Linked DNA regions of Homo sapiens: region 2 is linked to region 1. The links come from fine-mapping of genetic effects on gene expression. Tissue or cell type: whole blood. Region 1 holds a variant in brackets; the other region holds the start of a gene. All regions are shown on one strand. Distances are from middle to middle.

What was found. PIP is the estimated chance that this variant, and not a neighbour inherited with it, causes the effect.
Region 2: it holds the start of ZDHHC18, and the variant in region 1 is the best candidate, but not a certain one, in a credible set for the expression of ZDHHC18 in whole blood (INTERVAL, PIP 0.73).

What each region holds. Positions count from the first base shown.
Region 1 is chr1:26,873,608-26,877,786 of GRCh38, forward strand. GPN2 (GPN-loop GTPase 2) reads right to left here. Exons shown (of 5, transcript NM_018066.4): 5 at 2,525-4,179. It overlaps GPN2-AS1 (GPN2 antisense RNA 1), which reads left to right and starts at 2,527. Exons shown (of 2, transcript NR_199049.1): 1 at 2,527-2,703. RefSeq lists an enhancer at 1,267-1,766. The variant A/G (reference allele first, on the strand shown) is at 2,329.
Region 2 is chr1:26,824,320-26,828,498 of GRCh38, forward strand. It overlaps ZDHHC18 (zDHHC palmitoyltransferase 18), which reads left to right and starts at 2,369. Exons shown (of 8, transcript NM_032283.3): 1 at 2,369-2,820. The coding sequence starts at 2,486. RefSeq lists silencers at 2,151-2,303, 2,267-2,416, 2,427-2,636.

The DNA.
Region 1 (4,179 bases):
GCCAAGGCAGGCAGATTGCTGGAGCCCAGGAATTGGAGACTAGCCTGGGCAACATAGTGAGACCCCGTCTCTACTAAAAAGAAATTATGTGACCTCTGAGATTACTGAGATTATATGATTTATGAGTTGAGGGAAATCTTTTTTTTTTTTTTTTTTTTTTTTTTTTTTTTTTGAGACGGAGTCTCACTCTGTCACCCAGGCCGGACTGTGGACTGCAGTGGCGCAATCTCGGCTCACTGCAAGCTCCGCTTCCCGGGTTCACGCCATTCTCCTGCCTCAGCCTCCCGAGTAGCTGGGACTACAGGCGCCCGCCACCGCGCCCGGCTAATTTTTTGTATTTTTTAGTAGAGACGGGGTTTCACCTTGTTAGCCAGGATGGTCTCGATCTCCTGACCTCATGATCCACCCGCCTCGGCCTCCCAAAGTGCTGGGATTACAGGCGTGAGCCACCGCGCCCGGCCAAGGGAAATCTTAACCCATGTCCCAGTCTCCGTTCTTTGCTGTTTCTGTGACTCCACAATGTGGAGGCTCCAGGATTAAATATAGGAAGAACTTGGAGGTGACAATTCAGTGCAAAGGGAGGCACTAGGGGACATTCCTGGAAGCTACATTGACATGGCAAGCACACTGCATTAGACTTCACATTTGGCCGGGTGCTCATGCCTGTAATCCCAGCACTCTAGGAGGCTGAGGCAGGAGGATAGCTTGAGCTCAGGAGTTCGAGACCAGCCTGGGCAAGATGACGAAACCCCATCTCTACAAAAAATACAAAAATTAGTCAGGCATGGTGGCATGGGCCTACAGTCCCAGCTACACAGTAGGCTGAGGTGGGAGATGGCTTGAGCCTGGAAGGTGGAGGTTGCAGTGAGCTTGGGCAACAGTGCAAGATTCTGTCTCAAAAAAAAAATTCACGTTTATTTGGCATGGCTGTGAATGGGCCTCTCATGTCCCTCCTCCACAACTGCTTCAGAGTTTTAGAATGAGGAGAAAAAAACAACCTTCGCTGTGCATTCTCATCCAGAGCAATTTACCAATACTGTCATTTTTTACTTGTTTTCACTGTCTTTTTTCCACCTCAATTGGCCCCTAAATCCCCACCCCATCTTGTCACAGCCCCTGTCTTGGCCCATCTAGACACCTGGGCTTCTGGGGCTGCCTGGAGTTAGCTCCCTGGCTGGAAAAGGTCACACTGGGCTTGAAATGAGGGACACAGGTTTCCACATCTTTAGCAGGCCTGATGCCATGGAGGTATGTGCTGCAACTCCTTCTAAACGGGACAAGAAAAGAGAGTGAATGGCCCAGATCAGGCTGGGTAAGTAAAGACTCAAAAGCCAGAGACAAGAGAAGAGAGAGAGGAGGGGACTAGTGTTTTGCTAGAGAATTTCCCTCCAGGATTCCGGGATAATTGGGCCTCTTCACTGCTTTCAAAATTGGCGAGGGCCTTAATAGTGCTTGGGTGGGTCTGAAGCCACTCCCCTCCCCCCTCAGGATTCTTGAGAAAGGGACAGAGAATTCCTCAAATCGGCCTTCCCTTTCTCTTTCCCACAGATCCTAATGGGACCATACTTCCTATATTCTCAGCCACCAGCGGGTGAGCATTTTGCTAATCCAGGCAGACTGGATGTGCTTCAGCTCTGTGGGCTTTAGGGCCTCACCCTCATGCCTAAGCCTCTTTGTCAGGCTGGAAACCTTTCCAATTACCTGTGGTCCCTGCTAAGTTCTTCCAATTCTACACTGTCTTCTAATTGTTGAGGTTCCCAGTTCAGAGCCAAGAAATGCATATAACCTAATGTCAGTGGTTAGTAGGGATGACCAGGAAGGTCCCTTCTAAGACACTCAGAGAGGGCTTCCTCCCTCCCGAAGTTGTAGAGAATTGTCAAGGGAGGTCTGGAGATGAGAAGAGCAATTTCAGACACTATCAGTGAGATGTAAAGTGGCACATTTTTTGGAAAGCATTTTGGCAACATGAATCCAGAACCTGGAATATGTCAGTTATTTCATTTCCAGGACTACCTCCCAAGTTAAAAATCAGAGACTCAGACAATGATTTGGGTACGAGGATATTAATCACACTATTTACAAAAGTAAAAGTTGGTGATGACTTGTAGGCTAGTAGTAGGCTAACCACGGGAGTATGGATAGGTAAACAATGTTATAGCCAAACCATGGACTATTACCAAAGTGACATTAAAAAGGTTATTTACTTGATTGTTTGAGACAGGGTCTCACTCTGTTGCCCAAGCTAGAGTGCAGTGACACAATCATAGTTCACTGCAGCCTCCACCTCCTGGCTCAAGTGATCCTCCCACTTCAGCCTCCCAGAGTCCT[A/G]GAATTACAGGAATTGTATCTATTTTTTATTACATGGAATGGTGTTAACTGAAAAAGGCAGGATACAACACAATTATAAAATATCCCACTTATATAAATGCAATATCCACCCCAGGTATAAAAATAAGGCTGAAAGAATACATAAAATATCTCCAGGTATTTACAGAGATGAGAAAAAAAGAGAATACACAAAATATACATTTGAATATAGAATTTATTTTTCTCTTAAACAGATGACCCCATAGAAAGTTTCCGTTATGGGATTCTGGGTGACTCATTTTCGTTTTTTTTTTTTTTGAGATGTACTTTCCATCTTGTTACCCAGGCTGGAGTGCAATGGCGCGATCTCCGCTCACTGAAACTTCCGCCTCCCAGGTTCAAGCGATTCTCCTGCCTCAGTCTCCTAAGTAGCTGGAATTACAGGCGCATGCCACCATGCCCTGCTCATTTTTTTGTATTTTTAGCAGAGACAGGTTTTCACCATGTTGGTCAGGCTTGTCTTACACTCCTGACCTCAGGTGATCAGCCCGCCTTGGCCTCCCAAAGTGCTGGGATTACAGGCGTGAGCCACCGTGCTCGGCCTTCTCTTTCATTTTCTAAGTTTTTTACTTTCCTATATTTATTAGGAAATTTAAAAATAATCTTAAGGATGACTGCCACATGCCAGCCATAATGGAGGATGGTCTTTCTTCTACCCTAGACATTTCACACTGAACAGGCCTCACTTGGATCTCGGACATCTTCCTTTCTGCACTGTGCAGATCCCCTCAGTATATGCAGAGAACAGAAAATCATTTTGCTGCCAGTGGAAGGTAGACAGAAGCTACGTTTATTGGGGAAGAAAATACCCTTGCTGTCAAACCATGGCCTGAAAATAAAGGCCTTGGATTACTCCCACCCATCTCCACTCCATGGGTGCAGAGAATGCTGAGGGTGCTTGCATACGAGACCATAAAGTTGTAAAGGATGCCTTCCAGCCCCCATTTGGTTTGTTATGGTGAGAGCTGGGGCCTCTGTGAGTGGCAAGCATCAAAACCCACGACCACAGCCGTTGGTACTGCTTTCAAAAGCATAGCACCCACCCTAATGCCCTGATAAAGGATTTGTCCAGTAGCCTGGGCGTCAGGATTCCTGGGCTCTAGGCCCCACAGGTGATTCACAGCTAGCCCCAGGCTGTGCCTCCTGGCCTCAGTTTTCCTGGCTTGCTCTATTGGTACTTCCTACCTACTCTGTGGGGTGTTAATAGGGGTGAGGTGCTTTGAACTTCTCAGATGAAAGAGGCTGGGAAGCAGCACCCAGTTATTATCCCCTTTACAGCCAGGCGTGGGAGCTGAGGTTGCTTTCATACTGTTCCAGCCACAGTAGCCTCCTCATAGCCCCTCATTCATCTGCCTTTGGCTCTGGCTGCCACAACCAGAAAGCAAAGCAGTCAGTCCTATTTCAATGCTGTTTCAGAACAGATGTCCCTAAATTAATTTGCCAACTGCCCAAACCACTGGTGAACTATCTATGATTCAGTAATACTTTACAGGTGCCTAATTTCTTTCTCCTGATTGGCTGCAAAACCTGTGGGACAAGGGCTGTGACTTCTCACCAATAAATATACCAAAGGAGGGATACTCGCAATTTAGTCAGCAAAATGGGTTATGAGAAAGCCAGGCTGACCAAAGTTCAAACTTCTCATCTTTCTGCTTCCTCACTGTAACACGGGCAATGGCTTATTAATTCTCCCCATCCTGTCTATCTCTAATGAGGATTGTGTGTGTGGAAGCACTCTAAAATACCAAGCACTTCATATGTGTTAATAAGTCCAAATGTGGCCGGGTGCAGTGGCTCACGCCTGTAATCCCA
Region 2 (4,179 bases), 49 kb before region 1:
ATGGAGTTCCATCAGCCTTACTTAAAAAAAAAAAAAAAAGAGGCCAGGTGCAGTGGCTCACACCTGTAATCTCAACCCTTTGGGAGGCCGAGGCAGGCGGATCATCTGAGGTCAGGAGTTCGAGACCAACCTGGCCAACATGGTGAAACCCCGTCTCTATTAAAAATACAAAAATTAGCCGGGCATGATGGCACATGCCTGTAATCCCAGCTACTTGGGAGGCTGAGGCAGGAGAATCACTTGAACCCAGGAGGCAGAGGTTGCAGTGAGCCGAGGTCATGCCATTGCACTCCAGCCTGGGTGACAAGAGCGAAACTCCATCTCAAAAAAATAAAAAATAAAATAAAATAAGGATATGAGTGGAGGGTTGGCCATGGACAGAAGGAGGCCCACATCTTCTAAAAAAGAAGAAAGGACAGATGCAAATAAAGAGAAATTATGAGATAGAGAGGAGGTAAACTGAAAATCCAGTAGGATTGCTTTGGTTTCTGTAAAGTGACGAGAAAAAAGAAAAGGTTTCAGGTTGCAAGAGGACCCAGTTAAGGTGGGACAACAGGAATCTGTACTGGAACCAGTATGTCTAGTTTTGTGACTTTGTTCCACAGCCAAGGAGCAAAAAGGGAGGAAGCTCACCATGTGGTTTGCTCAAGATGGGGCTCATCATATTGAGAGCCTTTGGCACCAAAGGCACGGCTGAGCAGCCTTTGGCATATATATCAATTATTGATCCTTAAGGTCACTGTTGTCGGCTTCCTACTCCTCCCCATTGTATATTTTTACTTCCTTTTTTACTTTCTCCTAGTCTCCAGTTCTTTTTTTCCTTGCACTTTTCCTTAGGTTTTACAGTAACCACAGTGTGACAGACATACCCTAAGCTGACCCCCAATGATTCCTGCCTCCTGGTATTTACGCCTTGTGTGATTCCCTTTTCTTGAGTGCAGATGGCTCCTGTGCTTTGCTTTTAACCATAGGAGATGGCAATGATGATGGGATGCCACTCTGTCACATATATAGTAAGTTATATAAAACTCTATCATCATAGTCTGGAGCTAGAGACCCTCATTGTCAGTTTCAAGAAACTAAGTGGCTATGTAGGAGAAACCTGCATGGCAAGGAAATGTGATAATCTCTAGGAACTGCAGGTGGCTTTTGGATCCTGAGAGAGGCCTCCAGCAGACACCCAGCAAAAATCCCAGGCCCTCCTCAGTTATACAGTCACCCAGCAAAAATCCCAGGCCCTCTTCAGTTAAACAGTCGCAAGGAAGTTAATTCTGCCAATAACCCAAATGGGCTTGCAAGTGGATTCTTCCCTGGCTGAGTCTCCAGATGAGAATGCAGCCTGATTGCAGCCTTGTGAGACTAAGCAGAGGACCCAGCTAAGCTGTTCTCTGGCTCCTGACCTGGAACCTGTTAGATAACGTTTGTTTTTTGTTTTTTTTGAGACGGAGTCTTGCTCTGTCACCAGGCCGGGTGCAATGGCACAATCTCGGCTCACTGCAACCTCCACCTCCTGGGTTCAAGCAATTCTCCTGCCTCAGCCTCCCGAGTAGCTGGGACTATAGATGCCGTGCCACCATGCCCAGCTAATTTTTTATTTTTAGTAGAGACGGGGTTTCACCATATTGGCCAGGATGGTCTCTCTCGACCTTGTGATCCACCCACCTCGGCCTCCCAAAGTGCTGGGATTACAGGCGTGAGACACCGCGCCCGGCCGATAATGTTTGTTTTAAGCCTTAAATTTGTGGTAACTTGTTACACAGCAGTAGAAAATGAATACTCCCAGAATTCCTGAAAAAACACTGGGGCCCTCAGGCATGACCCCTCTACATTATGTGCTACCTAGGAAAATCTGGGCCTGGGCCCAGGACACAGAACTTGGTGAACGAGGCCAGAGGGTGTGCCACACACCTCCAGTGGGCACTCTGGACTTCAAGGTAGAAGAGGTCCTGGCTTTCAAAGCAAATCGTGTGCCCCACCTCCCCGCGCCTGCCTGCCTCTGCAAATGCCTGTCAGTTCGACCCTCAGAGATGGGCGAAGCCTGGGGAATTACAGACTGCCAGAAGTAGATCACGAAGTCCACCACCTGAATCTCGGCGTTTGGCACCGTGCCTGGTACACAGTGGACGCCCAACAAACGGCTTGCTTGCAGAACAGAAAGAGCCCTCGAGTGCGCGTCTGCTGGCCCCCTCTTTGTGCAGAAGGGAAAAGGGAGACTGGGAGGGCCGGGGACCTGCGGGGCCCCGCCGCGGGTCAGAGCTGGGCCTCCGGCCAAGCGCCATCCCGGGCCCAGGCGGAGGGGGCGCTGCGGCGGGAGGCCGCGGCGGGCGGTGGCGGCGGGCCGGGGGCGGAGCGATGGCGGGGCCGCCCCAGTGAGTGAGCGAGCGAGCGCCGCGCGCGCCGCCGCTGCCACCTCCGCTGCTCGGCCCGGTCCCGGAGTGGCCCGGCCGGCCCGCGGGGCGCGGAGCCGAGGCCCGCGGCTGGCTGCATGAAGGACTGCGAGTACCAGCAGATCAGCCCCGGGGCCGCCCCGCTGCCCGCCTCCCCGGGGGCGCGCCGTCCCGGCCCCGCCGCGTCCCCGACTCCGGGCCCCGGGCCCGCGCCGCCCGCCGCCCCCGCCCCGCCGCGCTGGAGCAGCAGCGGCAGCGGCAGCGGCAGCGGGAGCGGGAGCCTCGGCCGCCGCCCACGGCGCAAGTGGGAGGTGTTCCCGGGTCGCAATCGCTTCTACTGCGGCGGCCGCCTCATGCTGGCCGGCCACGGCGGCGTCTTCGCGCTCACGCTGCTGCTCATCCTCACCACCACCGGCCTCTTCTTCGTCTTTGAGTGAGTTCCGCTGCCTCGGCGCCCCCTCCCAGCCCCCTGCCGCGCACCCCACCTTCCCAATCCCTGCTGGGCACTCCGTGCCTTCCCCTTCGCCTCCCTGGTCCTCATCCTCCCCGCCCCTTTGGGATCCTCCTCGGGCCTCTTGTCTGCCCCCCTGGCCCCTGCGCACCCCCATCCCCGCCAGATGCCCCATCCTCCTTGGTCCATTTGGGTACCCCATCCGCGCTGGTGCCCTCCACCCTCCCAGCCCCTCCATTCTCCCTGACCCCACCCTGGCACCTGTCTGCCTGCCACTGCCAGGAACACCAGCCTCCATGCCCCTCCACGGCCCCCATCCTCGCTGCCCTCTCAGAACCTGCCCCAGGGCTTCTTGAACAGGCCCCTCCTGCTCACCCATCCCTGGACCATCTCTTGCCAACCCCCCAAGTTCTTTCTGACCCTTGTATCCCTTCCTGACCACTTCTAGATCTTGTGTGTCCTTTGGCTGTGCACACCCACCATAAACATCCTAGTCATCCTCGCTGCCCTCTCCGGGTCCCTCCAGGGTCCCCTCCTTTTCTCTAGTCTCAGACACCAACCCCGCTTTTGCTTCCCCTCAGCCACGCACACCCTAGGCCCCAAGGCATCTTTTCTCAAAATCTTTGGGCCTCTCGGGCCCCCTTTCCTTCTCCAGAACCTTCCTTAGGTTCTCCAGAGCTTCCTGTCCTTCCCTCAGATCCCGCCCGCCTCCACCCAGCCGGCTCCCAGGCCCCTGGCCCCCCTGCTGACCACCTGGCTTTCTTTCCCTGCTCAACATTCTGGAACGTCCCTCTGGCCTGTTCCACATCAGCAACAGCTGCGGTGCCTTGTTGTTTTTCAGGAAAGACTTCGGAGTGCTTTCGTGTGACAGGTCATATTTGCCCCCCTAGGTTTTTGTCCTCTTCATATCCCCCGGTGACCCAGGATTGGCCCACACATAATCTCCATTTTATGGATGGAGGGTCATATATTTGTATTAGAAGTTTTCCACCCACCTCTGAGCCACCTGCACTGTGATTCCTTGCACACACACTCACACGCCCACCCACCCACCCTTGCTTCATAAGCCCTGCTGTCCCCTCCCAACTCCCCATCCTTTGTGGTTGTTCCTCTTAATTATACAGTGTAGTTAAGAACTCTAACAGACCTGGTTCAAATCCCAGCTCCACCACCCACTAATTGCGTGACCTCAGGGCAGTCACTTCACCCCCTCAGTGCCCCAGTTTCCTCATCAGTAAAATGGGATTTATAATAGTACCCACCCCGTAAGGTTGTCCTGAGGGTGGCATGAGGTCACACATGCAAGCTTTTAGCCCAGTAACAAGCACACTATGTTGGCTG